Linked DNA regions of Homo sapiens: regions 1, 2, 4, 5, 6 and 7 are each reported to be linked to region 3. The links are microRNA targets in miRTarBase. Many come from high-throughput screens and were not tested one by one. Region 3 holds a microRNA gene; each other region holds the end of a gene's coding sequence.

Region 1 (3,000 bases), not on the chromosome of region 3:
CGGCCTCCCAAAGTGCTGGGATTACAGGGGTGAGCCACTGCGCCCAGCTGATCCAGTACTGTTATGCTTTTGAGACAGGGTCTTGCTCTGTCACCCAGGCTGGGAATGCAATGGTGCAGGTCACTGCAACCTTGAACACCTGGGCTCAGCCTCCTGCGTCGCTAGGACTACAGGGATGCGCTTTTTTTTGACTTTTAGTAGACATGAGGTCTCACCATGTTATCCAGGCTGGTCTTGAACTCCTGAGCTCAAGCGATCCTCCCACCTCAGCTTCCCAGAGTGTTGGAATTATAGGAGTGAGCCATTGTGCCTGGCCTTACTCCTCCTTACACTTTTTTTTTTTTTTTTTTTTTTTTTGTAGGGACGAGGTCTCACTATGTTACCCAGGCTGTCTCAAACTCCTGGGCTTAAGCCACTCTGCCTCAGCCTCCCAAAGTATTGGGATTACAAGTATGAGGCACTGTGCCTGGCCACTTTATAAGAAATTAATTGACATAAAATTTATTATCAGTTACAAAGATACAAAAATGTGTTTTAGGATATTGGTAATTTTCCCTAAAGAAAAGACTAACAATGTAATTTAATATTTGATACACAGGAAAGTTTTTGAAATTTTAAGCATCTGTGTTAAATAAATGAATGGAAGAAAGAGAGAAAGACAAATTAAGTACATCTAAATCTCTCTAATAATTTCTTAATAGGAAAACCTCTTCATAAATACAGGATATATCTATCTAGATATCTATACATACATACAAACGCATATATACTTTAATAGTTTTCTCATGTTATACTTGTAGAAGTGCAGTTTTCTTCCTTTCCCTTGTGTCATTATAGAGAACAGTAGCCACCTTGTTTCCATTTACTTTCAGTAACCATTACCATGGTATATATAAGTTCATAATAACCTCATATTAAATGTGGTGATCGGTGAGAAAAAAATATTTAAACGTAAAGGATATAAGATAAGAGATCACATTTGCCTTGACAGGATGGAGGTTAAAACAACAAAGTTCCAGCTTACTTTATAATCTATTTTATTACCATTAATATAAAAGTAAACAAATAGAATTTTGTCAGTGCACGCAAATAAGAGACATTCAGAAGTCAAGAAGTGTAATTTTAAGACTGCAAAAATTAATGCTATGCCCCTTAATAACAGAACTCTCCAGGCTTATTTTCATGATTCACGCTGTCTACCACAGGCCCTCCTAACTCCAGTGGAGAAGGAGTTTGGGGGTTCTCCAAAAACTTGCAAATTTACATATTAAAACTACTTGACCACAACTACCTTTTTGTAACTGACTGCTTTCAAGTTCTTTGTGTTTAATTCCATCAAAAACTGCATTATAAAACTGGTAAGGTTATTGACAAAGAAACAAGAACAAACTTCCATATTGCAGTTGACTACATTATATAATTTCAAATAAAATAAAATCAATTCATAAAACAAATTTAGTGGTGTGGTTTGGGAAATCTTTAAAATGACGTATTTTTAACTATCATAGTTATTATCATAATTAATTATCAGAGTTATGTTACTTTTCCCTCAAAACAGGCCACAGGCTTATTTTTATTTATTTATTTATTTATTGAGACAGAGTCTCACTTTGCCACTCAGGCTGGAGTGCAGTGGCGCGATCTCGGCTCACTGCAAGCTCTGCCTCCCGGGTTCACACCATTCTCCTGCCTCAGCCTCCTGAGTAGCTGGGACTACAGGCACCCACCACCACGCCTGGCTAATTTTTTGTATTTTTTAGTAGAGACAGGGTTTCACCCTGTTAGCCAGATGGTCTTGATCTCCTGACTTCGTGATCTGCCCACCTCGGCCTCCCAAAGTGCTAGGATTACAGGTGTGAGCCACTGCGCCTGGCCTATTTAAGTAAACCATCTAGAGACCATGGATCTAGCAAACTCATGTCTAACACAGTTGGAACCTAAAACTCAGGTATATAAAGATATTTCAAAGATTTATATACACATAATTCCTAAGAAAGGCCTTATGTAAGAACATACTTACTCTGATTTTAAAAGTCTTACAAGTATCTGTAACACAGTTTAGAACCTTAACAAAAACTAAAATGTTTCCCAGGCTTTAGAGTTTTCAGAAAGTGCATATTAATTCATAGCAAAGGCACCAGGCTCTCCCTCAGGCATGTTATCTTTTATTTTACACAAAATTCCCATGAACTTGGTTGTGTGGATTCTTAACCTGCAGTGAATTACCTAAGAAAGTGAACTGGCTGAGGCAGGCACATTACCAACCAACCTGACAGTAAGTTCAGGTGACAGAAAAGGTATGAGACATAGGTTTGAAAATGGCAAATTGGGGTCATTTAGTGAAGTGGTAAATACTCTTTATTAGCCCCTGGAGACATCAATATATGTGGGTACAATATAATAGGTGAAATTAATGATGATGTTCATTAATGCTTTAAAAAACATTAAAAATATTAAGTATCTTGTTTTAAAAGTAGAGAAATATTTTTAAAGAACTATTTCTATTTCAAATAGTTACAATGAAGTAAGTTTTAGTGCTTAAAAAGATAAGCTTTGATTATGTGGATAATCCATTTGTGTGGACATCTCATTTATTTTCCAATAATGTAGGATAAGATGAGGCGTATCAAAGTAACTCAAAATCAATGGACTAATCAATTTATGTATAATGATATGGTTCATCAGAATAAATGTCATGAATTTAAAAATCACCACCAATTCCTTTATTTTCTATATTATATTCTTTTAAAGTTCCCTTTTCTCCTGTACTTGAGTATGCTATAAAATCATGAACTTTTTCTTTTAGAATATCCAGTTCATTTTGCATCTTTAATATGCTATTATCATACTGAATTCCTTCAAGGGTTTTCTGCATCTCCATTATTTCAGACACTGCTTTCAGCATATCATCTTCCATATTAAACATCTGCATAGTCAAGTCTTCCATTTTCTTTTCTGTTTCTATCAGATCCTGAGAGACTCTGAGAACAGAGTGAATAG
Region 2 (4,618 bases), not on the chromosome of region 3:
ATTTGTCTTTAGGATATGAACTTCTATCAGTATCCACAGAGGCTTTGTGTAATTTTTTAGTGAATTTCTTTTTTTTTTTTTTTGAGATGGAGTTTCACTCTTGTGGCCCAGCTGGAGTGCAGTGGCGCAATTTTGGCTCACTGCAACCTCCGCCTCCTGGGTTCAAGTGATCTCCTGCCTCAGCCTCCCGAGTAGCTGGGATTACAGGCGCCCGCTGCCGTGCTCGGCTAATTTTTGTATTTTTAGTAGAGATGGGGTTTCACCATGTTGGCCAGGCTGGTCTCAAACTGCTGACCTCAGGTGATCACCTGCCTCGGCCTCCCAAAGTGTGGGATTACAGGTGTGAGCCACCGTGCCCGGCCATGAATTTCTTAAATATTTAAATTTGGTTATTTCACTTCAGATTTACCTTTCTCCCATTCAGTTCCAATGAGTGTGGCTTTGCTCGTATTGTGCACTGTTGTCCCCATTTTAAGGTGCAGAGGTGCTTCTTCAGTAGTTGGGTTAAATCATTGCTTCCACAATGGTGAACAGTTCATGTTTGTTATAGCTCAGCCCTGTGGTGTTTCGTTAATGCATGTTAGCTGGGAAACTGGTAGTGAATTTACCCTCATCTTTCAGGCTTGGAGAATAGAGTGGTGCTTCTGATAGACTCTCATGTACCCTTCTGAAGAAGTGAGGACAAGAATTACCCAGCCCCAGATGTCAAAAGGGCATGGTGTGAACCCTGCACCAGCCTTGGCAGTGACAGCCTCCTCTCCCATCCCTGTGCTTTAGTCACATTGTATCACTCACAATCCATCCAGAGCTCCACAATGTTTCATGCCTTTTAACATTCTTTTGCTGTTTTTTTTTTTTAACCTGGAGTTCTGTGGGGTGGCCCCCAAGCCCCGGGAATTACTGCATCTTTTCTGTGTATTATACTTAAAAGCGCCTTGAGGGCAAACAGGGGTTATTCCTTTTTTTTTTTTTTTTTTTTTGCCTTCCTGGCAATTTGCATGCAACACCTGATTGATTGTGTGGGCAACACATAAAAGGTGGCACCAGCCGTCCTATACACAACTTAATTTTTAAATCAGAAAACGCTTCAGTCTCTGATAATTCCTCATATTCTCTTGAAGTTCGGGTAATGGAGTATGGTAATGCAGATGCAGAAAAGCAGCAGAGGTCAGGCATAGTGTGTGCCTTGAATTAGCTGCCTTTTAAATATTGTCTCTGTTTGATGTTTAGTTTTTTAACTTTAATGTCTTCACTTTTCCCCTCTATCTTTAGATATCACACTTCAGTGGCTTATTCAGCATTCAAAATCTAGAAGAAGCTGAAGCATCTCCTGAAGTCTTCCAGTCCTTCTTGGCTATAATCCTAGAATTATTGTCCGTTCCTCTGAAGTAATTCCCAGAATACGGTCCTTCCTAAACCCCAGAAATTGCCTTTTTCAGAGTTTATTTCTCATGTGCACTGCTGAAGATGAATATCCCTAATCCTTCATAAAGAATCAGCTAGAGTTGTCATGATAAAGTCAGCACACACAAAAAGGCTTCTTACACATACCTGTCTTAAACCATGTGTAGAGCTTTAAAAACAGAAAAAAAACCCCATATACTTATGACCATCTTAAATCAAGAAAATTGCATATTTCCATTCTGGTCTTTCTGGGCCAGATTTTTATATTGGTTTTCAGTAAATGTCTATCTATAATATTTCATTATAGAGTCCAGTAGCTTAATACTGACACTGACTTGATACAGCATGAAGTTTCTAGTGCCACACACAGTATTTAGAAAACCTTTAGGCGTGAATGACTCATGTGGGATATATGTAAACATAATGTTTATTTTATCTCACAAATGCATGTGAAATGTATAATTACATCTTAGGAATCCAAAATGGTCTGCAGAGAGTGAGCGGAGGCACCAGATCAATGTTGGTTCTTTGCACTGGTGAGATTCTGCCTGATGAATATTAAAGATATCCTGCTTTCTGAGAACTCTATCACCAGATGGCAGTTGGGATATGGGAGGAACTAAAGCATCCTGTTTTGTATCTGTCCAGATCATTATTTCTGTCTCTTGTTTTTTCTTCCTGGTTCAGGATACTTTTTTAAGGGGTTGAGAATTGAAGATTTTCCAAAAGCGTTCATGAATTTAGAGCATTCCACCCAATATAATAAAACCTGTTAAGAATGTCAGTCTTTGTTCAAACATCTGTTTGTTCTATCTCCAGTCATTAAATCAGTGCTGCTGCATGACACTCTTAACTCCTGACTTTTTATATCCAGTCATAAAGTTGACTTTCAGCACAAAAGATACTTATAAACAAATAAAAAATTTTTATTTTTCTCTCTTACTGATGTAAGCTTTGGCACTCTTTTGACTGGTGCCATTAGACATCTTGATTATTGTGACAACTCTAGACCTGCCTGCTTTATCTAATGTAATCATGCTCAATGTCTACAGGTTGTTTAATAATCAGTCACACAGAGAACTGAGGAACTGATGCTGTTTGTTTGCTTCTATGATACAGAGATGTCTAAAAACTTCAAATGGACATGTTTTGTAGTTTAGCGACTTCCGTATACATAAAGGGACATATTAATACTGGTTCATTTGTAAATTATTATTCATATAGACCACTGTAGTAGATAAAACTCTATGGTACACCTGCTTATGTGTTGCCTCACACTGTGTGTGATTTTGTTTCTTTTGTTAAGCAGCACTTATGTAGACTGCATTTCCAAATGTGTTGAGCACTCAGAGTGTAGTCAACAGTAAGTTCTTTTAATGAATATCAGTTTTAATTTATAGACTGCCATGGCCTTAAAAATATTCTGTACAATATACTGCACTGTGTTGCACAGACACTACTTGCTTTTCTCCATTCATATTTTTATGAGTAGAATCTGGGCTTTTAAATTTCTCTTCTTATTCTTTGAAGCATGTTGCATACTACCCTGGTGGGATGGATGGTTCTGTAAATGAAGGGATATTTAAACTTGCTACTGTTGTTCAACACCATTAATGGTCAGTGTGAACCATTACAAAGAATGTGGCAACTTGCTTGTGCCTAAAAGGAGGAATTGGAACTAGAATGTGTGACTCTGTGGGGACTGCATAGGTTTGTTAATTGACCTATAGCTAAACCTTAATGTGTTTGTGTGTCTATACATTGCTTTCCGCATTTCAAGACATCCAGACGCTATTACCAACATTTTCCTGTGCATTAACCTCTGCATGTGAAAACTTTTAACAGTTACTGAACTATGTAAATATGTGAATTTTTTTATTTAGGTGGATGCATTTTTTGTCTGTTTACTGCTCTTCTCAGCTTTATTCAATAAACTTGCATTTTAAGGGTTGTATTGGCAATTTTAACTTAAAATGTGCATCATGATGGAAGGTGCAGACTTTTTTGGAAGTTTCCGAGAGGAGGGTCTATAGACCATTTGTCAGAAATCAGATCAGCCCTCAAAGAATGGGGTCTGTGGGCTAGTTAAAATAGAAATAAACTTTTAAAATATCCACAGAATTGATATTGTGATTTTTTGGGGGCGGGGGAAATGCTACTACTTGTCAACGGTCACAATACACCAAATTTAGGACTTTAAGTGGCAAGTGCTAGTAAAACATTTTATGTCCCAGTTTTTACAAATCAAACCAAGACCCTGCTAAGCAAATGAAGTTGCAAGACATGCCTATTCACTGACTTCAGTTCAGAATGGAAATATTTTAAGTACCGAACATGCTGGTTTTCCCACAAAGGCACATTTTTAGCATAAAGCTTTTTGCTAGTTTGGTATCATCTGCCCATAAAATAAGTCAATACTTGAGCTATTGGAAAAATAATTGTGTATATTTTTATTTGTTTAGAAAGGTTCAGTTAGCATTTTCTCCATACGCATACTACAATTCTGTACAGCCAACCCTTAGTGGCCAGTTGGATGCATGATTTCGCGTTTATTTCCCTGGAACGTCACGTTGATGTGTTTTTGTCTTTTCACTGCATTACTGGAGCCATGTAGTCAAGCATCAAGTTTCATCCACTTCTCACCATTCTCCTACCAAGGGGGTGAGTGTGTGAGAGTTGAGGGTGAGGATGGGGGAACACGGAGGATATACATTTAGCTTAATTCTAAATGTGTATCTGCTTTTAAAAACTTCTAAACTTATAAAGTTGGTCTTTGATTCTGTCAAGTAAATTGGGTGTTTGAGGAACTAACTGCTTTGTCTGTTTGCTCCATGTAGGATTGAGTTACACTGATACCCTGTTGATTTGGTAATTCCAGCTGCTCCAAGGGTCTGGTGGGTTCAGAACTGGAATGGAAGCTTAAACATAATGTAGTGGGCATCATGCTGTAACATCCAGTTGGCCAAATGCTTTACTCTAAAAATGTGCCACAGTGGGGAAAGCACGATGTTTGATGTTTAAAATGTTTTTGTTATGTTACAGACTTTTAAGGTTATGCCCTCAACTGTGCATAGCAGTGAAGAGACTTGAAAAGGAAGACAGTAAAGCCTTACAGACTTCCCTTAAGTTTGCTGCTCTATAAGTATGCAGCCTGCTGCAGGTGTTTCCTGTTGGTTAGTAAATAACCTCCACACATTGGCTGTTTAAAATTCAG
Region 3 (4,618 bases):
TTTAGACAAACTTCTCATTTCTCTGCAGTGTTCGGAATTCATCATGCCTGTATGACAAGGTTGTGTTTGAGAACAAAAGGGGACCTGTGTGACATGTTTTATTTCAATATACATTTAGAGTTTGAACAAATAAAAAAAGCTATTAGAATTTTTAATATATATAACACATTATCAAAAACACTGTCACTTTTCTGAGTGCTCTAATCAGGCAATTCGTATGTATATTTAAAAAGAGGGAAAAAGCTAATTAGTATACTAAATATATTTATTTTAATACCTGTGCTCATATGTTATCTTTAAAGAACAGGAATAAAATTTATGGGTAGAATAGTATGCCAGCAATTTACCTTCAATACAAATTAAACACATCTTTTAAGAAAAGGGCGAGTTATATTGGCTGGGGTGGCACTAACACTACATTATTAATATGTATTTATTGAGCATTTACTGTGTCCAGGACCCTGTAAGGGGGAAAAAAAGTCCTTGTTTTTACAATCTTTATTGACTGAAATTCTGTAAAATGAATTGAATTCCTGAAGTGACATCATTTAACCCAAATTTTTTCATCATCAACTAATTCATCTCAGAAAACAGTAAAGTTTAAAAAAAAATACTATCAGTAAGAATAATATATTTCCTTGGTTTGGAAATTTCCAAACCACGATATTCTGCCCTGTCAAAATATATTCACTGGGGAATTTTTTACTTCATACGTTTCTTTTGAACTTAGTCACATTTTTATATCTAGCTGGTTTCATTATTAAATAAAAGAAAAGGTGATTCCCCTCTTGTACTGCAGGAGACCACATACTTGAATGATACTCTAACTTCTAGGTTCTGTTATAGTAACACTGAAATCAGAAACCTGTGGGAGAAATGTCACTTTATCTGAGAGAGTAAAATCAGACTCTAAAAGGAAGTAGCAAATTCATCTTGTTCTTTTTTTTAATCAACCCTCTGCCTAAGACAAGTAGTTTGAAACACAGAGGACTCTTTAAGTCATACTTCCTTTATGTAGTCAAAACCAAAGCCACTGGGTAGTGCTTTCCCCAAAGGAATCTCTAAATAGTAGACGGGGACATTTTCAGATAGATTCGTTTGTAGGCAAACCTCCATTGCTTGTATCACATTTCCTGAAAGAATAAAGGTAAAACTTCAACTATGTATTACAGAAAGAAAAATTCAGCCTGAACCCTACCCTTATAAAACAGGTTAATTGGGTTTTAATTTTCATAAATCATAAAGGACTATTTTGAACATTTGGGCCTTTAATTGTCTAGCTCCTAGATGAAGTACAAATCAGAAAAAAAAAAAACTGTACTGTGTCAGAATGCAAGCTTTCCTCTTTGCATTTTGGCATTTGAAAACTCCGAAGAGCGGTTTTTGTTTTTTATTTAAAGAAGATGATACATATGTGTACCCGATTCAAAACTAGAGAATAGAATTTAAAACATAATTTTCAAAGTCTTCAAATATGCCTAAAGGTAACAATGTCATCTTTTAATTGCCAATTTCTCTACCACTTTCAAAAAATTACTTCCAAGGATTTAATGAGCTCCTTCCTTTCAACAGAAAATGGACTATTTTCCTTTCAGATTTACTATATGCTGTCACTCCAGCTTTATAACCGCATGTGCATACACAAACATTTCTTTCTCTCTTGCAGGTGGCACAAACCAGGAAGGGGAAATCTGTGGTTTAAATTCTTTATGCCTCATCCTCTGAGTGCTGAAGGCTTGCTGTAGGCTGTATGCTGTTAATGCTAATCGTGATAGGGGTTTTTGCCTCCAACTGACTCCTACATATTAGCATTAACAGTGTATGATGCCTGTTACTAGCATTCACATGGAACAAATTGCTGCCGTGGGAGGATGACAAAGAAGCATGAGTCACCCTGCTGGATAAACTTAGACTTCAGGCTTTATCATTTTTCAATCTGTTAATCATAATCTGGTCACTGGGATGTTCAACCTTAAACTAAGTTTTGAAAGTAAGGTTATTTAAAAGATTTATCAGTAGTATCCTAAATGCAAACATTTTCATTTAAATGTCAAGCCCATGTTTGTTTTTATCATTAACAGAAAATATATTCATGTCATTCTTAATTGCAGGTTTTGGCTTGTTCATTATAATGTTCATAAACACCTTTGATTCAACTGTTAGAAATGTGGGCTAAACACAAATTTCTATAATATTTTTGTAGTTAAAAATTAGAAGGACTACTAACCTCCAGTTATATCATGGATTGTCTGGCAACGTTTTTTAAAAGATTTAGAAACTGGTACTTTCCCCCAGGTAACGATTTTCTGTTCAGGCAACTTCAGTTTAAAATTAATACTTTTATTTGACTCTTAAAGGGAAACTGAAAGGCTATGAAGCTGAATTTTTTTAATGAAATATTTTTAACAGTTAGCAGGGTAAATAACATCTGACAGCTAATGAGATATTTTTTCCATACAAGATAAAAAGATTTAATCAAAAAATTTCATATTTGAAATGAAGTCCCAAATCTAGGTTCAAGTTCAATAGCTTAGCCACATAATACGGTTGTGCGAGCAGAGAATCTACCTTTCCACTTCTAAGCCTGTTTCTTCCTCCATATGGGGATAATACTTTACAAGGTTGTTGTGAGGCTTAGATGAGATAGAGAATTATTCCATAAGATAATCAAGTGCTACATTAATGTTATAGTTAGATTAATCCAAGAACTAGTCACCCTACTTTATTAGAGAAGAGAAAAGCTAATGATTTGATTTGCAGAATATTTAAGGTTTGGATTTCTATGCAGTTTTTCTAAATAACCATCACTTACAAATATGTAACCAAACGTAATTGTTAGTATATTTAATGTAAACTTGTTTTAACAACTCTTCTCAACATTTTGTCCAGGTTATTCACTGTAACCAAATAAATCTCATGAGTCTTTAGTTGATTTAAAATAATTTTTATGGCCCATTTTCTTTTGCAAAGTACAAATTATAATTCCAGAAGCTATCTGCCAAAAAAAGACAATGGAAGAAAATTATGAGGACACTAAAGGGAACATTCCTGACTCCTAGGACACAGTATTCTCATGTAAGAATACCCATTTGGCTTTGCCCCACTTTCTGTTCAAGTTGTATGTGCTGCCAAGACAAATTTCTTCTCCTCACTTTCTGTTCAAGTTGTATGTGCTGCCAACACAAATTTCTTCTCCTAACACCTGGAATGAGCTTGTGGCTCCACGGAGCTCCCATGTAGGTAGAACACATTCAAGAGTGTTTCTTCAGGCCAGGCACAGTGGCTCACGCCTATAATTCCAACACTTTGGGAGGCCAAGGCGGGTGGTTCACTTGAGGTCAGGAGTTCTACACTACCCTGGCCAACATAGTGAAACCTCGTCTCTACTAAAAATACAAAAATTAGCTAGGCATGGTGGTGCGTGCCTGTAATCCCAGATACTCAGGAGGCTGGGGCAGAAGAATCACTTGAACCCAGGAGGTGGAGTTCACAGTGAACGAAGATCGTGCCACTGCCCTCCAGCCTGGGTGACAGAGTGAGACTCCATCTCAAAAAAAAAAAAAAGTGTCTGTTCAATTCATTTTATCTGCCACTGTATATCTACAAGAGGACTCCTTGCTTTGAGTCCCAGTTCTTCAAAATCCTGCTTGCTGCCTAAAGACACAAAGTCATAGAACATTAGGACTGGAATAAACTATTGTAGTATAACCTTCCTGCTGTTACAATAAAAAGCTATAAACATTACAAAGGCACTTAAAGAAAAGCTGTGCTGGGAAATGCCTTATTTGAAGAGCATTTGGGTACACTCACATGAAGCTTTGGAAAGTTACTTAATCTTCCTCTAAGCCTCAATTTCTTCATCAATAAAATGATGAATATATTTCATATTTCATAAGATGTAGGCTTAAATGAAATCATGCATGTGAAAAGCACAATGTCTATTATGCATTAAGTGTTAAACACAAACTTTCAAACTTTTACATTTCAGTCATTTAAATCAAATGATCTACCATAGCAGATCTCCCCAAAGACACTCTAGCTCCAAACTAACTATAATCAATCCCGTGGTGACGACCCAAAGAACCAGGGTTCCTGGGTTTTCTCTCACGCCCAGCCCACCTAGGCTTCTGACTGCCTATCTCCTCATCTTAGAGGGATTCCTCCTGACCAGTCATTACAAAAATTCTTGGAGCATGAGCAAGACTGAGTCTGTGTTTGGATTGGAGGAAGGGGTAAGTAACAAGGTATATATATGTATATGTGTGTGTGTGTGTGTGTGTGTGTGTGTGTGTGTGTGCGCGCGCGTTTGTGTTTAAGTTACAAACTAAGGATGGTTTTAAAAAATTGCAAAATGTTAAGAGATTTATCTAGGATCTGACCCACTTCCCCAGAAATTTACGGAATTCAAGACCAAGCCTTTCGTATTCACTGTCATCAGTTAGATGGACCCAGTAGCTAAAAAATTAAGGAGAAAAAAAATAGAGGAATATGAGGGAAAAAGTCAAGTCAGAGGACTGAAGAATATATACAGAACATAGAATATTAGAAATTTTCTGAAAATAGATGATAGCAAATACCTCAAGAAAGTGAGGAAACGTGAAAAGGGAGCTTAAAGAAA
Region 4 (4,618 bases), not on the chromosome of region 3:
TATTTTTGGTAGAGATGAGGTTTCACCATGTTGGCCAGGTTGATCTTGAACTCCTGACCTCAAGTGATCCACCCACCTCGGCCTCCCAAAGTGTTGGGATTATAGGTGTGAGCCACTGCACCCAGCCCATAACTAAATTTCATTAAAATCATTCTTATAATCACAGAGCAGCTCACAAAATGAATACCTCATAAACTATAAAACAACAAATATATATCAGAAACAAGAAATTTATGGGCCTAGCATGAGTACCAGACAAGTGAAAACAAGAGAATTTGAATGGCAAGATTCTGAACCATAAGCCGTAAAATTATACAGTAAAATTCAATACAAACCAGAGTATAGATTTGCATTCATTTTTGAGGATTTTTGTTTTCTAAAAAAGTAGACACCTGACCAGGTGTAGTGGTTCACGCCTGTAATCCTAGTACTTTGGAAGATTGAGGCAGGTGGATCACCTGAGGTCAGGAGTTCAAGACTAGCCTGACCAAAATGATGAAACCCCATCTGTACTAAAAATACAAAAATTATCTGGGCATGGTGGCCTGCGCCTGTAGTCCTACCTACTAGGGAGGCTGAAACAGGAGAACTGCTTGAACCCAGGAGGCAGAGTTACAGTGAGCGGAGGTCACGCCACTGCACTCCAGCCTAGGCAACAGAGTGAGATTCTGTCTCCAAAAAAAAAAAAAAAAGAAAAAAGAAAAGAAAATTAGACACCTTATTAAAATGATGTCTTGTTCCAATATTATTCTGAAAATAGTTACAAACTCATACTCAAACACACTTAATCCATAATCTTCTTACACCTAAGGTTTATATTTAGACTAATAGATGTGTACATTTAACTCTATGTAAATCAAAACTAAAAGCCTGTATCTGTTTGCAAGTAGAGAGGCCACATATTCAAAGAAAAATATACAAGAAATTATTTTTATTTATTCAGGACTCAGAAATGTGTAAATTTTATACTTGTATATAATTTTTATTATAAAAATAACCCTGTAGTCAATAACAATCGTATATTTTAAAAAAACTAAAACTGTACAATTGAACTGTTCATAATACAAAAAATAAATTCTAAAGGTGATGGATACCTCATTTACCCTAATGTGATTATTACATATTGTATGCCTCTTATCAGAATATGCCATATATAACATAAATATTATATGCCTGAAAAAACTAACAAAAGTAAATTTAAATGGGAAAAAATAAATAAAAATTTTACCTACAGAAACAACATTCCTTATTTGCAGTTTAAAGCCACTGGAAAAAAGATTAGTACTACAGATGTTAGTGCATTCTTTTACCAAATAGTGTATTGTTACCACCATTTATTTTATTTACTTATTTATTTTTTGAGAGGGAGTCTCACTTTGTCACCCAGGACGGAGTGCCATGGCATGATCTCGGCTCACCGCAACCTCTGCTTCCCGGGTTCAAGTGATTCTCCTGCCTCAGCCTCCCGAGTAGCTGGGATTACAGGCATGCGCCACCATGCCTGGCTAATTTTGTATTTTTAGTAGAGATGGCGTTTCTCCATGTTGGTCAGGCTGGTCTTGAACTCCCGACCTCAGGTGATCTACCCACCTTTGCCTCCCAAAGTGCTGGGATTACAGGCGTGAGCCACCGTGCCCGGCCTTGTTACCACCTTTTACCTACACCCTTGAGTAAGGTGGACTAGGTTAAAGTAAGTGGAATAATGTGACTTGATTGAATGCACAATATTTAAACTGTTAAAAATGTTGAATTAAGAAATTAAGTTCACACATAATCTAAAATTTTTAACATGTACTGCATTTTCATAAAAGTAAAATTAGTAAAATAATATACTAATTTATTTTTAATTTTAACTAAAACTAAAAATTTGTCTCTCAATATAATGCAGAATATTACTCAGAACACCTACCTCATGCATCACTCAGTACTGTAAGTGAATCACAAAGAACCTCTTTACTTAGATTTTCATCATGCATTTTAATGTCCTTACTCTTTCATAGAAGAGGTCATAAATGCTCACCTAATAAAAAATAATCCTCATATCTTTTGGTCACATGCTTTCACATATGAATACAATAGGAATAAAGAAACAACATCAGGCAGGCGCAGTGGCTAACACCTGTAATTGCAGCATTGCGGGAGGCCAAGCTGGGCGGATCACCTAAAGTCTCGAGTTCGAGACCAGCCTGGCCAACATGGCAAAACCCTGGCTCTATTAAAAATACAAAATTTAGCCACGCATGGTGGTTTGCGCCTGTAATCCCAGCCACTTGGGAGGCTGAGGCAGGAGAATCACTTGAACCCTGGAGACGGAGGTTGCAGTGAGCTGAGATCGTGCCACTGTACTCCAGCCTGGGGGGGCGATAGAGCAAGACTCCATCTAAAAAAAAAAAAAAAAAGAAGAAGAAAAAGAAAAACTAATTTCCTTAGCATGAAGTAATTTGAGAGTTAATTACAACATTAACACGAAGTAATTTGAGTTAATTACAACATTATTTGTATGAAGTAATTTGAGAGTTATTTACTTTTAAAAAAAATCTGTAATCTTTCTAAAAAAAAGTATACTTGTAACTCTCCAAAAAATCTTCTACTCTTTTAAAGTTATAAACAAATAATTTTTCTGCCAAGTTTAGTTTTGGATTACTTTCTAAACTCAGAACTCTGATTCAGTGTAAAGTCTGAAGTGTCATTGCCTTATATATTTCTAACATAAATTCTCTGATATTTACATAAACTTACCATTGAATTAAATATTTTTTTCTATTTACTGTATATGCAAAAATATTTTAATATGAACTCTCTGGAATTTTCTAACCTGTAGTTTTTGAATAAATGTTTTTTTCTAAATTTATTACATTTACAGGGTTTTTCTTCGATATAAATTCTCTGATGTTGAACAAAGTTTGAGCAATTGCCTCAGGGTTTGCTCTAATACAGAATGAATACAACAAGATCTGTGTTACAAGTAAAGTTACCACAACTTCGTTTATATTTGTAATGTTTGTCTTCAAAATAAATCCTCTTCAGCACTTTAAATGCTTATTTTTTGAACTCTTTTGACAGTAATTGCACTTTTAATGCTATTAATATAAACTCTGATGTTGAATAAGATGTGCACAGATATTAATCACTTTTTTACTTTCTTTATATTTGTACATTTGTTCTCAAGTATAAAGGCTTTCCTGTGCAATAAGGTTTGAGCATTGTGTAAGTTTTGCCACACTGTTCATTCACACTTGTAGAAGTTTTCTCCAGAATGAATTACCTTACCTACAATCCAGTGTGATAACCATTTAAAGGCTTTGTCACATTCATATTTCTATTATTTCTCACCAGCACAATTTCTTTTATATTTGGAAATCTTTGCAATGTTGTCACAAGCATTGTTACAACTTTCAGGTTTGTAGAGTTTCTCTCCAGTATGAATCATCTTATGTCTGTTAAGAATAGAGGAGTTGTTAAAGGCTTTGCCACATTCTTCACACTTGTAGGGTTTCTCTCCAGTATGAATCATCTTATGTGTAGTAAGGTGTGAGGACTGGTTAAAAGCTTTGCCACATTCTTCATATTTGTAGGGCTTCTCTCCAGTATGAATTACCTTATGTTTAGAAAGAGTTGAGGACTGGTTAAAAGCTTTGCCACATTCTTCACATTTGTAGGGTTTCTCTCCAGTATGAATTATCTTATGTGTAGTAAGTTGTGACGATAGGTTAAAAGCTTTGCCACATTCTTCACATTTGTAGGGCTTCTCTCCAGTATGAATTCTCTTATGTGTAGTAAGGTGTGAGAACCGGCTAAAGGCTTTGCTACATACTTCACATTTGTAGAATTTCTCTCCAGCATGAATTCTCTTATGTGTAGTAAGGGTTGAGGATTGTTTAAAAGCTTTGCCACATTCTTCACACTTGTAGGGTTTCTCTCCAGAATGAATTCTCTTATGTGTAGTAAGGTGGGATAACTGGCTAAAGGCCTTACCACATTCTTCACATTTGTAGAATTTCTCTCCAGTATGAATTATCTTATGTGTAGTAAGGGTTGAGGACTGGCTAAAAGCTTTGCCACATTCTTCACATTTGTAAGGTTTCTCTCCAGCATGAATTATCTTATGTGCAGTAAGGGTTGAGGACTGGCTAAAAGCTCTGCCACATTCTTCACATTTGTAGGGTTTCTCTCCAGTATGAATTCTCTTATGTGTAGTAAGGTTTGCAGATTGGTTAAAAGCTTTGCCACACTCCTCACATTTGTAGGGTTTCTTTCCAGTATGAATTATCTTATGTGTAGTAAGGTGTGAGAGCCGGTTAAAGGCTTTTCCACACTCTTCGCATTTGTAGGGTTTCTTTCCAGTATGAATTCTTTTATGTGTAGAAAGGTTTGAGGTCTCATTATAGGCTTTCCCACATTCTTTACATTTGTAGGGTTTCTCTCCACTATGAATTCTTTTATGTTGAGCTAAGTGTGAAAGCATGCAAAATGACTTTTCACATTCTTTACATTTGAAAGATTTCTTTCCAGTATGTCTTATCGTATGTCTGTTTGAATTTGAAAATTTATGAAAGACTTTCACATATTTGTCACATTGAAATATTTTGTTCTGGGTAGTCGTCAAACACTGGTTAAG
Region 5 (3,000 bases), not on the chromosome of region 3:
TCGGTATGTCCGCCACCACTCACTACCACACCTACCTGCCACCACCCTACCCCGGCTCTTCCCAAAGCCAGAGTGGACCCTTCCAGACCAGCAGCACTCCATATCTCTACTATGGCACTTCGTCAGGATCCTATCAGTTTCCCATGGTGCCGGGGGGAGACCGGTCTCCTTCCAGAATGCTTCCGCCATGCACCACCACCTCGAATGGCAGCACGCTATTAAATCCAAATTTGCCTAACCAGAATGATGGTGTTGACGCTGATGGAAGCCACAGCAGTTCCCCAACTGTTTTGAATTCTAGTGGCAGAATGGATGAATCTGTTTGGCGACCATATTGAAATTCCTCAGCAGTGGCCCAGTGGTATCTGGGGGCCACATCCCACACGTATCAATATATACATATATAGAGAGAGTGCATATATATGTATATCGATTAGCTATCTACAAAGTGCCTATTTTTTAGAAGATTTTTCATTCACTCACTCAGTCATGATCTTGCAGCCATAAGAGGGTAGATATTGAGAAGCAGAAGGCTCAAGAGAGACAATTGCAATCGAGCTTCAGATTGTTTACTATTTAAGATGTACTTTTACAAAGGAACAAAGAAGGGAAAAGGTATTTTTGTTTTTGTTGTTTGGTCTGTTATCATCAATAACCTGTTCATATGCCAATTCAGAGAGGTGGACTCCAGGTTCAGGAGGGAGAAGAGCAAAGCCGCTTCCTCTCTGTGCTTTGAAACTTCACACCCTCACGGTGGCAGCTGTGTATGGACCAGTGCCCTCCGCAGACAGCTCACAAAACCAGTTGAGGTGCACTAAAGGGACATGAGGTAGAATGGATGCTTCCATCACAGTACCATCATTCAGAATAACTCTTCCAATTTCTGCTTTCAGACATGCTGCAGGTCCTCATCTGAACTGTTGGGTTCGTTTTTTTTTTTTTTTTTCCTGCTCCAAGAAAGTGACTTCAAAAATAACTGATCAGGATAGATTATTTTATTTTACTTTTTAACACTCCTTCTCCCCTTTTCCCACTGAACCAAAAAGAAATCCCATCCCTAAAACCTGCCTTCTCCTTTTATGCAAAACTGAAAATGGCAATACATTATTATAGCCATAATGGTATAGATAGTGATTGCGTTTGGCTATGTGTTGTTTTCTTTTTTTTTAAATTATGAATATGTGTAAAATCTGAGGTAACTTGCTAACGTGAATGGTCATATAACTTTAAAGATATATTTATAATTATTTAATGACATTTGGACCCTTGAAACATTTCTTAGTGTATTGATATGTTGACTTCGGTCTCTAAAAGTGCTCTTTATTAAATAACAAATTTCTTCAGTGGTCTAGAGCCATATCTGAAATATTGCTAAGCAATTTCAGTTCATCCAGGCACAATGTGATTTTAAAAAATACTTCCATCTCCAAATATTTTAGATATAGATTGTTTTTGTGATGTATGAAGGAAATGTTATGTTTAGTTCTTTCAGATCTTTGAATGCCTCTAACACAGCTTTGCCTTCTAAAGCGGTAATTAGGGATTTAAAAAACAACCTTTAGCCCTTTATCAGCATGAAATGCTGGAGTGATGTGGTTTTCTAATTTCTTTGGGGTAATTATGACTCTTGTCATATTAAAAAGACAAGCACAAGTAAATCATTGAACTACAGAAAAATGTTCTGTGGTTTCATAGTTAAGCAAAACTCTAAATCGCCAGGCTTCATAGCAAAGACATAGTCAGCTAAAAGCCGCACATGTGGATAGAGGGTTCAATTATGAGACACCTAGTACAGGAGAGCAAAATTGCACCAGAGATTCTTAACCAACCAGCCTTACCAAACAACACAACAGGGGAACCCCAATCTGCCTTACCCAAGGCCCCACTGGCAGCTTTCCACAGAATTTGCATTTAGAGGAGCAGAATGACATCACTGTCCTTTGGGAGTAGGTCCTCTGAAAAGGCAGCAGGTTCCAGCAGGTAGCTGAGCTGAGAGGACATATGGCCCACGGGGACCTACAGACAGCCTTTGACATTTGTATTTCTTACAATGGAGGGCCAAGGAGGGCAAGGGGCTGTGGAGTTTGGTGTCTACTAGTGTGTATGAATTTGAGCTAGAGTCCTTCTGTGGCATGCACTTTGACCACTCCTGGCAGTCACATGGCAGATTTCCAAGTGCAAATCCTTAATCCAAACAAGGATCATCTAATGACACCACCAGGCCAATCCCTGCTCTCCTCCCCGAAAAGTCAGGGTCCCTTCATTGGAATCCTCCACCCACCCAAGCAGAATTTAGCAGAGATTTGCCTTCAAACCCTAACGGCCCCCTTGTTCTCTGGTCCTTCTCAAACCCACCTTTGTAGGCCACCCAGCATTGCAGGACAGCGTGTGGGGCAGCTGGACCTGTGCTTCCTGCCTGGGAGTCTCCCTTGGAATTCATCCTGACTCCTTCTAATAAAAATGGATGGGAAAGCAAAACACTTTGCCTTCTAAAGGCCGTATACCAAGTATGCTTAGATAAATAAGCCACTTTTCTATTACTTAAGTAAGAAGGAAGTAGTAATTGATACTATTTATTGTTTGTGTGTGGTAGCTTGAAGCACACCACTGTCCATTTATTTGTAAGTGTAAAATATGTGTGTTTGTTTCAGCAGCACTTAAAAAAGCCAGTGTCTGGTTACACATTTCAATTTTAATTAATTGACATAAAAATGCTACCGCCAGTGCCAGCTGCATCCTATTTAATTAAAAAGGTACTATATTTGTACATTATTTTTTAATGTTAAAAGGGCTTTTTTAAGTTTACAGTACACATACCGAGTGACTTTAGGGATGCTTTTGTGTTGAAATGTTACTATAGTGGCTGCAGGCAGCAACCCAGAAACACTTTAGAAGCTTTTTTTCCTTGGGAAAAATTCAAGCACTTCTTCCCTCCACCCTCACTCCAACCACCCCAATGGGGGTAATTCACATTTCTTAGAACAAATTCTGCCCTTTTTT
Region 6 (4,618 bases), not on the chromosome of region 3:
TATTGTAATTAGTATTTTCCTTTTTTTTTTTTTTTTTTTGAGACAGGGTCTCGTTCCCTCACCCAGGCTGGAGTGCAGTGGTGTGGTAATAGCTCACTGCAGCCTCGAACTCCTGGGCTCAAGTGATCCTCCCACTTCAATTCCCCAATAGTTGGGACTATAGGCACACACCACTCTCATAATTTCAATTTCTAATTGTTGCTAAGATAATTTTGACTTTGTATCCTGCAACCTTGTTAAATTCACATTATTTCTACGTTTATATCAATTTTCTACAATCATGTCATCTGTGAATGACAATTTTATTTCTTATCTGTAAGCCTTTCATTTCTTTTGCTTGCACTGGCTAGAATCTGTACAAAGTTGAGAAAAAGTGGTGATAGTGGGCACCTTTGCCTTTTTCCTGATCTCTGGAGGAATACGCTTTTCAAAAATTCACAATTAAATATGTTGGCTCTAGGTTTTTTTTGTAGAACTTCTTCTATTAAGAAGTTCCCTTCTATTCCTAGTTTGTGCAGTTAAAAAAAAAGCAAGTGCTGAATTGTATTGCTTTTTATGCATCTATAAAGAACTTGTCTCCTTTATTTCCATAAATGCAGTAAATAGTATTAATCTTCCTATTTTAAGTTACAGGCAGTCCTTGATTTTTTACGGCTAACTGAACTCTTGCTGGTTTCTATGGTATAAATATTCCCATCAGAGCAGACTTTAAATTACTAGTATGAGGTCACTGAACTCGCAGCTGGGAAAGATGTACTATCGGTTTTGGTGGGCCAGGGTGAGCTAGTTTGAATACATTTTTGATTGTGTAGTTCTCAATCACCGAGACAGAAATTTATCATAACTTCACTAGACCAGTAAGAACAAAGCCACTTTATAAACTTACCTATTTTATAAGTCTCTCACATAATCCATGAGGTAGATCAAAATAAAAATATAACTCCCTTTTTTTTTCCCCAAGTCTTTACTAAGTACCTAAAAGCACTCAACACTATATTAATTGCTGGGGAAAATGTAACTCTCAGAACTTACAATCTAAATGATCTAAACATGATCAATAGAACATGCTCCAGAGAAAAATCTTAACACAGCAGCAGCAGCAATTTAACTGCTAAAGAAACCCAAAAGTAGGGTGGGGGTAGTTTGGGTGGTCTTCCTGCAAGAGGTTACATGGTTCATCATCATTAGGTTTTAATGGAAATACGTGATGTGGACTAGCAAAAAAAAGAAAGATACCATATTAAAATAAGAGGAGGATACAAATGAAGGGATGAAAGTAGGAAAGAAAAGGGCACCTGTGAAAACTCACAAACTTAAAATAACATTAGTGTCAACAATGGGCACTGTGTTGCTTCACTTGCAACATACAGCACCATCAGGTAGGTATGCCTCTTTATCAACTCTGAAAGTGGCTAAATGGTGCTTCTGTGGCACTAATCAAGTACACTCATTCTGTTTTTCTGCATGTAGTTGACAGTGGACTCAGAAGTCAATTCTCTATTGACATGTTTTATAATTATAGAGTCCTTATAGATTTCTCAGGGTGAGACAAAATGCTTTCAAATATCCAGGGTGTAAGTCATAGAGATGCTTAACAACTATGATCTACTTGCTGGCTCAGAAAATGTCTACCTAAACTTTATAATTACTGGTCAAGAGCCAGAGAAATAGAACATGCCCATTCGGATTCCTTTGAGTATCTGTCCATAAAGAACACACAGCAGTACTGTATAATTCTGAGGCTGATAAACAGGTAAGATGTATAAATTATCTTATCCACAAAGAATTCAGTGTTAGTTTACTAAGTTAGTTCTCAATCCTCACATAAAAGTCATTGAAAAACAGAATTTTCATATATACATTAATAATTTTAATGATTTCTTTGTATCTAACCAATTTAGGTAATATTTTCTTTTACACAGAAGGTCCCAAAATAAAGAATAATACACAGAATACAGTCAATAGGTTATATCAATTTACTTCACATAAGAGCATAATTCAGGCCTTTTCCATTTAATAACAAAAACAATCTGTACAGAAAACCCAAAGGCAACCACATAGCATATGTAAAATGTGCAAATACACTTTAAAATGCAAGTTATTCTATAGCATTTGCAAGATAGAATTTCACTGTAATTAGGGAATCTAGTTCATCCTAACTTAATAGTCTTTTGCATGTATAGACAATGCAATTCTACAAGGCACAACTCAGCGTTGATGCTAAAGTATGAAACACATCCTCAGATTATTTATTTGAAAATATTAAAATAGCATCGTTTATTATTTTTTAATGAGTCATGAGCTCATTTCTAAAGCTTCATAAAGCATTACACTGATAACATATGTGTGGTCAGGACAAACTGTTCCCTGAACTTAAAAGGTGAAGGACAAGACCCCATATTATTATCCTGTATTAAAAAAGGAAATATACATATATGTACACAGACACCCCATATCACAGACAAGAAACTTCCCATAATTCAAAGGGAGACCATTTCCTTATTAGCAAAGGTGCGCATTACAGTATTTCATGACAGTTAAAAATTACACACCTACCACCTGTTTTGGTCAATCTTGCTAAAAAAGACACTGAAATAGACAATTTTCTTCTTTAAGGTAAAGACAATGTCTAATTTAGAAAATCTTCCTCTTGAGATTGCACAGTGAAAGGTATCAGTTAATTAAATATAAAAGCTTACCGTTTTTGTTTTTTTTTGAGACAGAGTTTTATTCAGTCGCCCAGGCTGGAGTGCAATGGCGCTATCTCGGCGCCCAGGCTGGAATGCAGTAGCGCGATCTCAGCTCACTGCAACCTCTGCCTCCCAGGTTCAAGTGATTCTCCCGCCTCAGCCTCCTGAGTAGCTGGGATTACAGACACTCGCCATCATGCCCAGCTAATTTTTGTATTTTTAGTAGAGACGGCATTTCACCATGTTGGCCAGACTGGTCTTGAACTCCTGACCTCAGGTGATCCACCCATCGTAGCCTCCCAAAGTGCTGGGATTACAGGCATAAGCCACCATGCCCAGCCAAAGCTTACGCTTTTAAAGAAATTATTTAAATCTACACAGAAAAAAATATCAACTTATTAAAAACTATTAAGAGCACTGTCTATAATTCAAAATCTTTCAAACCCAATCACAAAGCTCTTTGCTGTTTTATTGCCCATCCCTGAGTAAAGATTCTATCATTTGTAATTTTTTAATAACGTAAATTTTACATTGATAAGAATGATGTTTAACAATTTTTTTGAAAATATAAAATAAACCCTATATCATTTTAGTAAAAAAAAAAGAAAATATAAATGCTCTTTGCAAAGACCACCATTCATAAAAATTGTAAATATTTGTATGTCAATTTCTGACATCCTTTTTACTGGGTAATTTCTGTTTTTATGCCGTTCATATATCGCTCATTTCCTCATAACCTGTTATTTTGTACCTTTTGTTAATAGGAGTATTTAATAAGTAATGGAGGAAAAGTACAATATAAAACCTAATGGAACTCTGAAGTGAGATGTGTATTTCCCTGTGGTAAAAGAGTTTTACTGGAAACAATTAATGCGATCCAAATAGACAAAAATATCTATGAAAGAAAGAATACATATGGTAAGCATCTTCCTTGTCTTTGGCTTAGCCTTCTTGACCAAAATCTTCTGTAAACTTCTTTAATTTCAACAAGTCATGTTCATTGACTGTAGGTTTTGTGTTAGATAGTGACCGCAACATATCCGACTGTCAGGGAAAAAGAAGGGTAGGGAGGATATTAATAATAGAGTTAACAAAATAAAAAACCGTCATATTATCATTATTGCTATGAACTTTAACCTAAGTTTAAATATGAATATTTGCAGTCTGCCATAAGATACTAACGATAAACTCCCTATTCTTTTTTTTTTTTTTTGAGTTGGAGTCTCACTCTGTTGGCTCAGGCTGGAGCGCAGTGGCGTGATCTTGGCTCATTGCAACCTCTGCCTCCCAGGTTCAAGAGATTCTCCTGCCTCAGCCTCCCAAGTAGCTGGGATTACAGGCACCTGAAACCACACCTGGCTAATTTTTGTATTTTTAGTAGAGATGGGGTTTCGTTTTGTTGGTCAGGCTGGTCTCGAACCCCTGACCTCAGGTGATCCGCCTGCCTCTGCCTTGCGAAGTGCTGGGATTACAGGCGTGGGCCCCTGCACCCGGCCCCTATTCTTTCACAGATCTTTCATGATCTTTGATCATGTTATTCCTTTGTGTAGAAACGTATACTTTCTTCCCCTGAACTGATCAAATGGCTCCCCAATACTTATCAGAAGGACAATCCCCTTAGTCTGAGGATCAAGGCCTCCAAAGTATGTTCATGATCTAATTTCTGGCCTTATCTCTTTTTCTTAAACGAGATCAATTTTCCAAGTCAGTATAATTCAAAAGGAAAATATCATTCACTTACACTTAAGTGAAGCAGAATACCATTCTATGAAAAATCTACTAACCAGAATTTTAAAATAATTAGTTACAATTAAGATCGAAATGGTTAGAAAAATATGCTAATATCAGAGATTCATTAAAAAACTAACTTCTAAGCCTAGACTCCTGTAAAAGGATATGAAAAATAATGAAAAGGACCACTCTAAGTT
Region 7 (4,436 bases), not on the chromosome of region 3:
CCTATACTGATCACATTGTGTAAATTGTGTTTACACAGGTGTAATAACACATTTTGTAATAACTGGGCTCTTTGTTTAGGCTGATTTAAAGATGCTTAAAAATGCTTAACAGTATTTTTACTACCTGTATCCCTAGGTCGAGTTACCTGCATTTGACTCATAAGCAATTTCTAAGATTTGGTTTGTCATATTATAAGTCTGCTCCATTAGGTGTCTGCAGTTTAATTGAACATGTAGGTGGTATTATAGTTTAAGGAGGGTTTAAGCATTGAATGTTAATCAAAAACATTGATAAGCAAAGGAAAAATGAAAGTGACTCCTTTCATGACTGTTGTATGCTCTGTAAGTTGGGTGTAAAGGTTTAAGGTGGAAAAAACGTACCTCGAGGGAATTAATTTTAATATACGAGATAATAATTAAAGCATGATTGGCCGGGGCGCAGAGCAGCAGGTCCGCTTTGTCTCCCCGGGGCGCCGCGCGGTGCAGTTGGGGCGGCGCGGCGAGCGGGGCGCCCGGGCGCGGGTGCGGGGTGTCGGGGCGCGCGCGCCTGTTGGCCGCTCGCCGATTCCTGCCGAGTGTAGAGAGGAGAGGGAGTGAACAGGGAGCGGGGCTTTTGTCTGTTGGTCTCTCTGGACTGAAAACAGGGAGAATAGAAGCCCAAGACTAAGCTTCTCAAAATGGTTTACTACCCAGAACTCTTTGGGTCAGTCAAGAACCATTTCCAAACAAGGACATGGAGGGAAGGTTTCCTAAGGGAAGACTTCCTGTCCCAAAGAAAGTGAACCGCAAGAAGAACAATGAGACAAACGCTGCCTCCCTGACTCCAATGGGCAGCAGTGAACTCCGCTCCCCAAGAATCAGTTACCTCTACTTTTTTTAATCGTAACACCTCCATTTGTATTACATATGGTGTATGGGTATTGATGAGGTCATGGTATTATATATGGGATTTTTTTCTGTGTAAATCATTAAGTATAAGAAGAAACTATGTGACTCTGAGCCTTGCTTTAGAGAATTTACAGTGGACAAATAGGTATCATCAAACCAGTTTTTAATCATTCTGACTCAAGTGAAAATGCTCAGAATTTCACACCGTGAATCCACGTTTACAACCCTTACAGGTGGGCCTTCAGGCCTGGTTCGCTACAACGTCTTCCACAACTCAAACTCCCACCGTGCTCACACAACTGGTCCACTCCTGAGTCCCCCCTTTTTTTTTCATTTAGAATGTAACAAACCTAGTAGTTTATGCAATTGTCTGTATATCTCTATATTTTATCCATGTACTCTTTTGATGTATAGAAGTAGTTTGAAACTCATTGTTTCCTTGTGGTAACTGACCGAGATGCTGCCACAGGACCTGAGACACTGATGAATGGTGCTATTTTGGACTTTCAACATGCTCCTTGGCGAGGTAGCTCTGATGGAGTTATTTTTTATTTCCATGTTCTAAGAAGGTGTTGGTACTCTGTTTCCCTGAATGTTGTTCTCTAGACTGGATTGACTTGTTTTCCTTGTGTCTTCAGTGTGGCTTTCTTCCTCAGTGTTGTAGGTTGAGTGAATGCTACCAGAGTGTGAGAGACGATTGTCTCGTCGGCTGGCACCCACAGACATGCAGTCACGGTAGTGGGAGCAATCACAAAACTGTAATTTACTTACCAAATCTCTTCCTTTCCGTTGCCTCGCCTGCCTGACTTAGAGAAAGAAAAGCAATAATTTTACAGGCATTTTGAGGTGTCTCTTTGGGTTCTTTCTGTTTGAAACGGTATTTGTGGAAAAAAAGAGCAAAACCTTTTTAAATAAATTCCCCCTGAAAAAAACCCAAAACACTGGCATCTGAGTAGGAATATGAAAATGACACCTTTTCCAAATATTAAATTGGAAAACAATGTCTACAAAATCATGGTACTTTTTTAAAAGGCAGAGCATTCTTTTTTGGCAATTTTGATAAGCAAGGTGTAGATTTACATCTTTGTCCTTGCTCCCAACGAAATGGATAAACAAAAATAAATTACCATCTACTCATGGAATGTTGTTGTGTTAGCCAGTCTGAAAGCCCACCTTAATTTTTATATAACTGTCTTTTAGCTCTTCTTTTGACAGGGCAGGCCTTGTTCTGAACTGTTTCGCTTCTGACTGTTAAACACCGATGACGCATGCACTGCACTTCTTTGTTTTCTTCTTGCTCCCCCATTGGCCTGAGTTTCTTGTGCATTACTCCTCTCCCTCCTTTGTTAGAATAGGTATATCAGCTGTGTAAATAGAGCAAGAAAACAGTATTCTGCATCTGTGGCATTTATGTAGAGTTGCAGCTGTATACTGCTGAAAATGCAGGCTTTTGTAACAGTGTGATCTTTACCGATGCACTCATGACAAGTACCCAATGTATTTTAGCTATTTTAGTAGTATTTGTTCAATAAATATGCAAGCTGTAAGGTAAAAAAAAAAAAAAAATTAAAGCATGATTACATGGGAGTGTTGCTTCCCATGTACAAAAGCACTTCTTAGGAACTAAAGCACTAATACTTTCTGCAAGAACAATTGTCACTGATTTCTACTTTAGAACTATAGGGCTGTGCAAAATGAAACTAAAATCAGAAACTATGACACCAAACAATCCATGTATTCTTACGAAATTCAGAAGATGGCCGTGTCTCTGGTTACTAGGACTTCTAGAAATTGAGTGCCTTAAAATCCTAAAAATTTTACAGACCATTAATATATTAACATGAAACCTGATCTTCTGCTAATGTAGTATCTGTAATTACTATGAGAAACGTTCTATTTAATGATTTTCCATGTTTCTAAAAGTAAACTACACATAAGCAATTTTTAAACTTTTAGTAAAAGAAAAAATTGGTTTGATCACACTACCTCTATTCTGGCAAACATGAACCCCTTTAAGGAAAATCATTCAAGTCATATGAACCCATTGACTAATTTATGCATCATTTTAACTAATTTCTTCCATAGGATTTCTATGTTGAAAATGAAACAATCTTCGATTCTTAAACAGGAGATGGATTCTACGAGTGGCTTTCTATAGGAGAAAAAACTTACTAGAATAAATGTTTTATTAGCTTTAGCACATCTACTCAACATTCATAGAACTGCTAGGAATAAAAAGTGAAAAAACATGAAAATGAATGAAAAATGAGACTCAGAGAGATTAGCTGACGTGGTTCAAAAACAAAAGCCTCAGAGGAGGCCTGCATGCCATGTATGTACTGCTAAAGGGATGTGGTTCTAGAAACGAAAGGGGAGAGAATAAAATATATATTGGCAATGCTTAAACCAAAATGTATTAAGACAAAACAAACTTAAGGCACTAAAAACCAAGGATAAAAGTACTGAAAATAAATCTAATGCTAAAACTTCTCACTGAACTCCAAAAGCAAATCTTTTGAACCACAGTATCATGTTAAAAACTAAGATTTTACAGCTGTGCTACTACTAATAGTGTCTGTGTGTGTAGATACACAGATGATATATAGATGAACAGAGAGCTGCATAGAGACATAGATTGATAGAGCGATAGATTTTAAAACATTTATTTGCCATTCACTACTTTGCAACAATTCTCCCAATTTGGTTTGAAAAGAGACAACAGTTGACTTTTGTTCAAAGTCCAAGTAAAGAGAGAGGCCATGTTTGGAGTGAGAATCCTTTAATAACTATATTTATTTCCAGAGAACAATAAATACAGAAATTGCAAGCAGTATATGTAACAGTAATATTTTCTTTAAATACAGAATCACCTACTTTTATACAACTTAACAGGCAAACATGTTATTTTGTTGTTGTTGTTTGGAAATTAGCATTGGGAAAAGCTATATAACAGAGGAAATTCCAAGTAAAATCAAACAGTGTTCACTCTTAACTCTAAACACAGTGCTCCCACTACTGGTTCTGCATTGAGGCGGAGGGGAAGGCCAGAGGCAGGCTTAGCTTCGGGCGGCAGCGGTCTGGGGCTGCTCGGACTGGAGCTGCTTGCCAAGGTATTCCCTGAAAAAAAAGAATGAAGTAAGGAGAATGAGAATTTCAATAGCAAAGAATCACTTCCAAAATTGAAACACATTATGCACTGTCATATATACTTACTTTAACATCCAAAAATAACTAAAAAGTCCTAGAAAATTAAACTTTTCCAAATTTCCAAAGTACTTGTGCTGTATGAATTCTACTTCATGTATCATACACAAACAAGTTATGACAAAGACAAACTAGTCATTCTCCTATTTTTATGAATAACTTGTAAAGTTATTACGATTACACAAACAGGTGATTACAAGGAAATGTAATTACTTCCTGGGGAAAGACTACTTTCCTGTTCAGATAAAGGTCTTGTTTACTGCTACTGCCATTTCTGCAATCTAAGAAGTTCAACATCACCTCAATTACGATTCTGAATGACCTCATAAATGAAAAACAAATGT

Evidence for each region. The annotated mature microRNA hsa-miR-155-5p reads UUAAUGCUAAUCGUGAUAGGGGUU and lies in region 3 at 1,757-1,780, shown strand. An mRNA with a match to its seed (bases 2 to 7 or 8) in the 3' UTR can be bound and repressed. Matches are read on the target gene's strand: a 7mer-m8 pairs with bases 2 to 8, a 7mer-A1 pairs with bases 2 to 7 and ends in A, and an 8mer does both.
Region 1: the mRNA of IKBIP is a reported target of hsa-miR-155-5p. Seed matches in the 3' UTR shown: 8mer at 2,427-2,434 and 8mer at 1,138-1,145.
Region 2: miRTarBase lists ARL8B as a target of hsa-miR-155-5p. Seed matches in the 3' UTR shown: 7mer-A1 at 3,217-3,223.
Region 4: the mRNA of ZNF492 is a reported target of hsa-miR-155-5p. Seed matches in the 3' UTR shown: 8mer at 3,075-3,082.
Region 5: the mRNA of RUNX2 is a reported target of hsa-miR-155-5p. The part of its 3' UTR that is shown has no 7-base or 8-base seed match.
Region 6: miRTarBase lists VPS4B as a target of hsa-miR-155-5p. Seed matches in the 3' UTR shown: 7mer-A1 at 3,558-3,564.
Region 7: miRTarBase lists ATP6V1H as a target of hsa-miR-155-5p. The part of its 3' UTR that is shown has no 7-base or 8-base seed match.

The regions. Positions count from the first base shown.
Region 1 is chr12:98,623,229-98,626,228 of GRCh38, forward strand. It overlaps IKBIP (IKBKB interacting protein), which reads right to left. Exons shown (of 3, transcript NM_153687.4): 3 at 1,021-3,000. The coding sequence ends at 2,702. Among named protein-coding and RNA genes, the nearest start is that of IKBIP, 20 kb to the right of the region's middle.
Region 2 is chr3:5,177,392-5,182,009 of GRCh38, forward strand. ARL8B (ARF like GTPase 8B) reads left to right here. Exons shown (of 7, transcript NM_018184.3): 7 at 1,273-3,520. The coding sequence ends at 1,322. Among named protein-coding and RNA genes, the nearest start is that of EDEM1, 8.0 kb to the right of the region's middle.
Region 3 is chr21:25,572,227-25,576,844 of GRCh38, forward strand. It overlaps MIR155 (microRNA 155), which reads left to right and starts at 1,754; the gene lies at 1,754-1,818. It overlaps MIR155HG (MIR155 host gene), which reads left to right. Exons shown (of 3, transcript NR_001458.3): 3 at 1,667-2,942. RefSeq lists a silencer at 1,698-1,877 and enhancers at 3,429-3,578, 3,971-4,020.
Region 4 is chr19:22,663,970-22,668,587 of GRCh38, reverse strand. It overlaps ZNF492 (zinc finger protein 492), which reads right to left. Exons shown (of 4, transcript NM_020855.3): 4 at 917-4,618. The coding sequence ends at 3,323. Among named protein-coding and RNA genes, the nearest start is that of ZNF492, 32 kb to the right of the region's middle.
Region 5 is chr6:45,546,968-45,549,967 of GRCh38, forward strand. It overlaps RUNX2 (RUNX family transcription factor 2), which reads left to right. Exons shown (of 9, transcript NM_001024630.4): 9 at 1-3,000. The coding sequence ends at 338. Among named protein-coding and RNA genes, the nearest start is that of RUNX2-AS1, 28 kb to the right of the region's middle.
Region 6 is chr18:63,387,343-63,391,960 of GRCh38, forward strand. It overlaps VPS4B (vacuolar protein sorting 4 homolog B), which reads right to left. Exons shown (of 11, transcript NM_004869.4): 11 at 1,848-3,734. The coding sequence ends at 3,633. Among named protein-coding and RNA genes, the nearest start is that of KDSR-DT, 22 kb to the left of the region's middle.
Region 7 is chr8:53,712,020-53,716,455 of GRCh38, forward strand. It overlaps ATP6V1H (ATPase H+ transporting V1 subunit H), which reads right to left. Exons shown (of 14, transcript NM_015941.4): 14 at 3,524-4,005. The coding sequence ends at 3,945. It also overlaps the pseudogene NREPP2. Among named protein-coding and RNA genes, the nearest start is that of ATP6V1H, 130 kb to the right of the region's middle.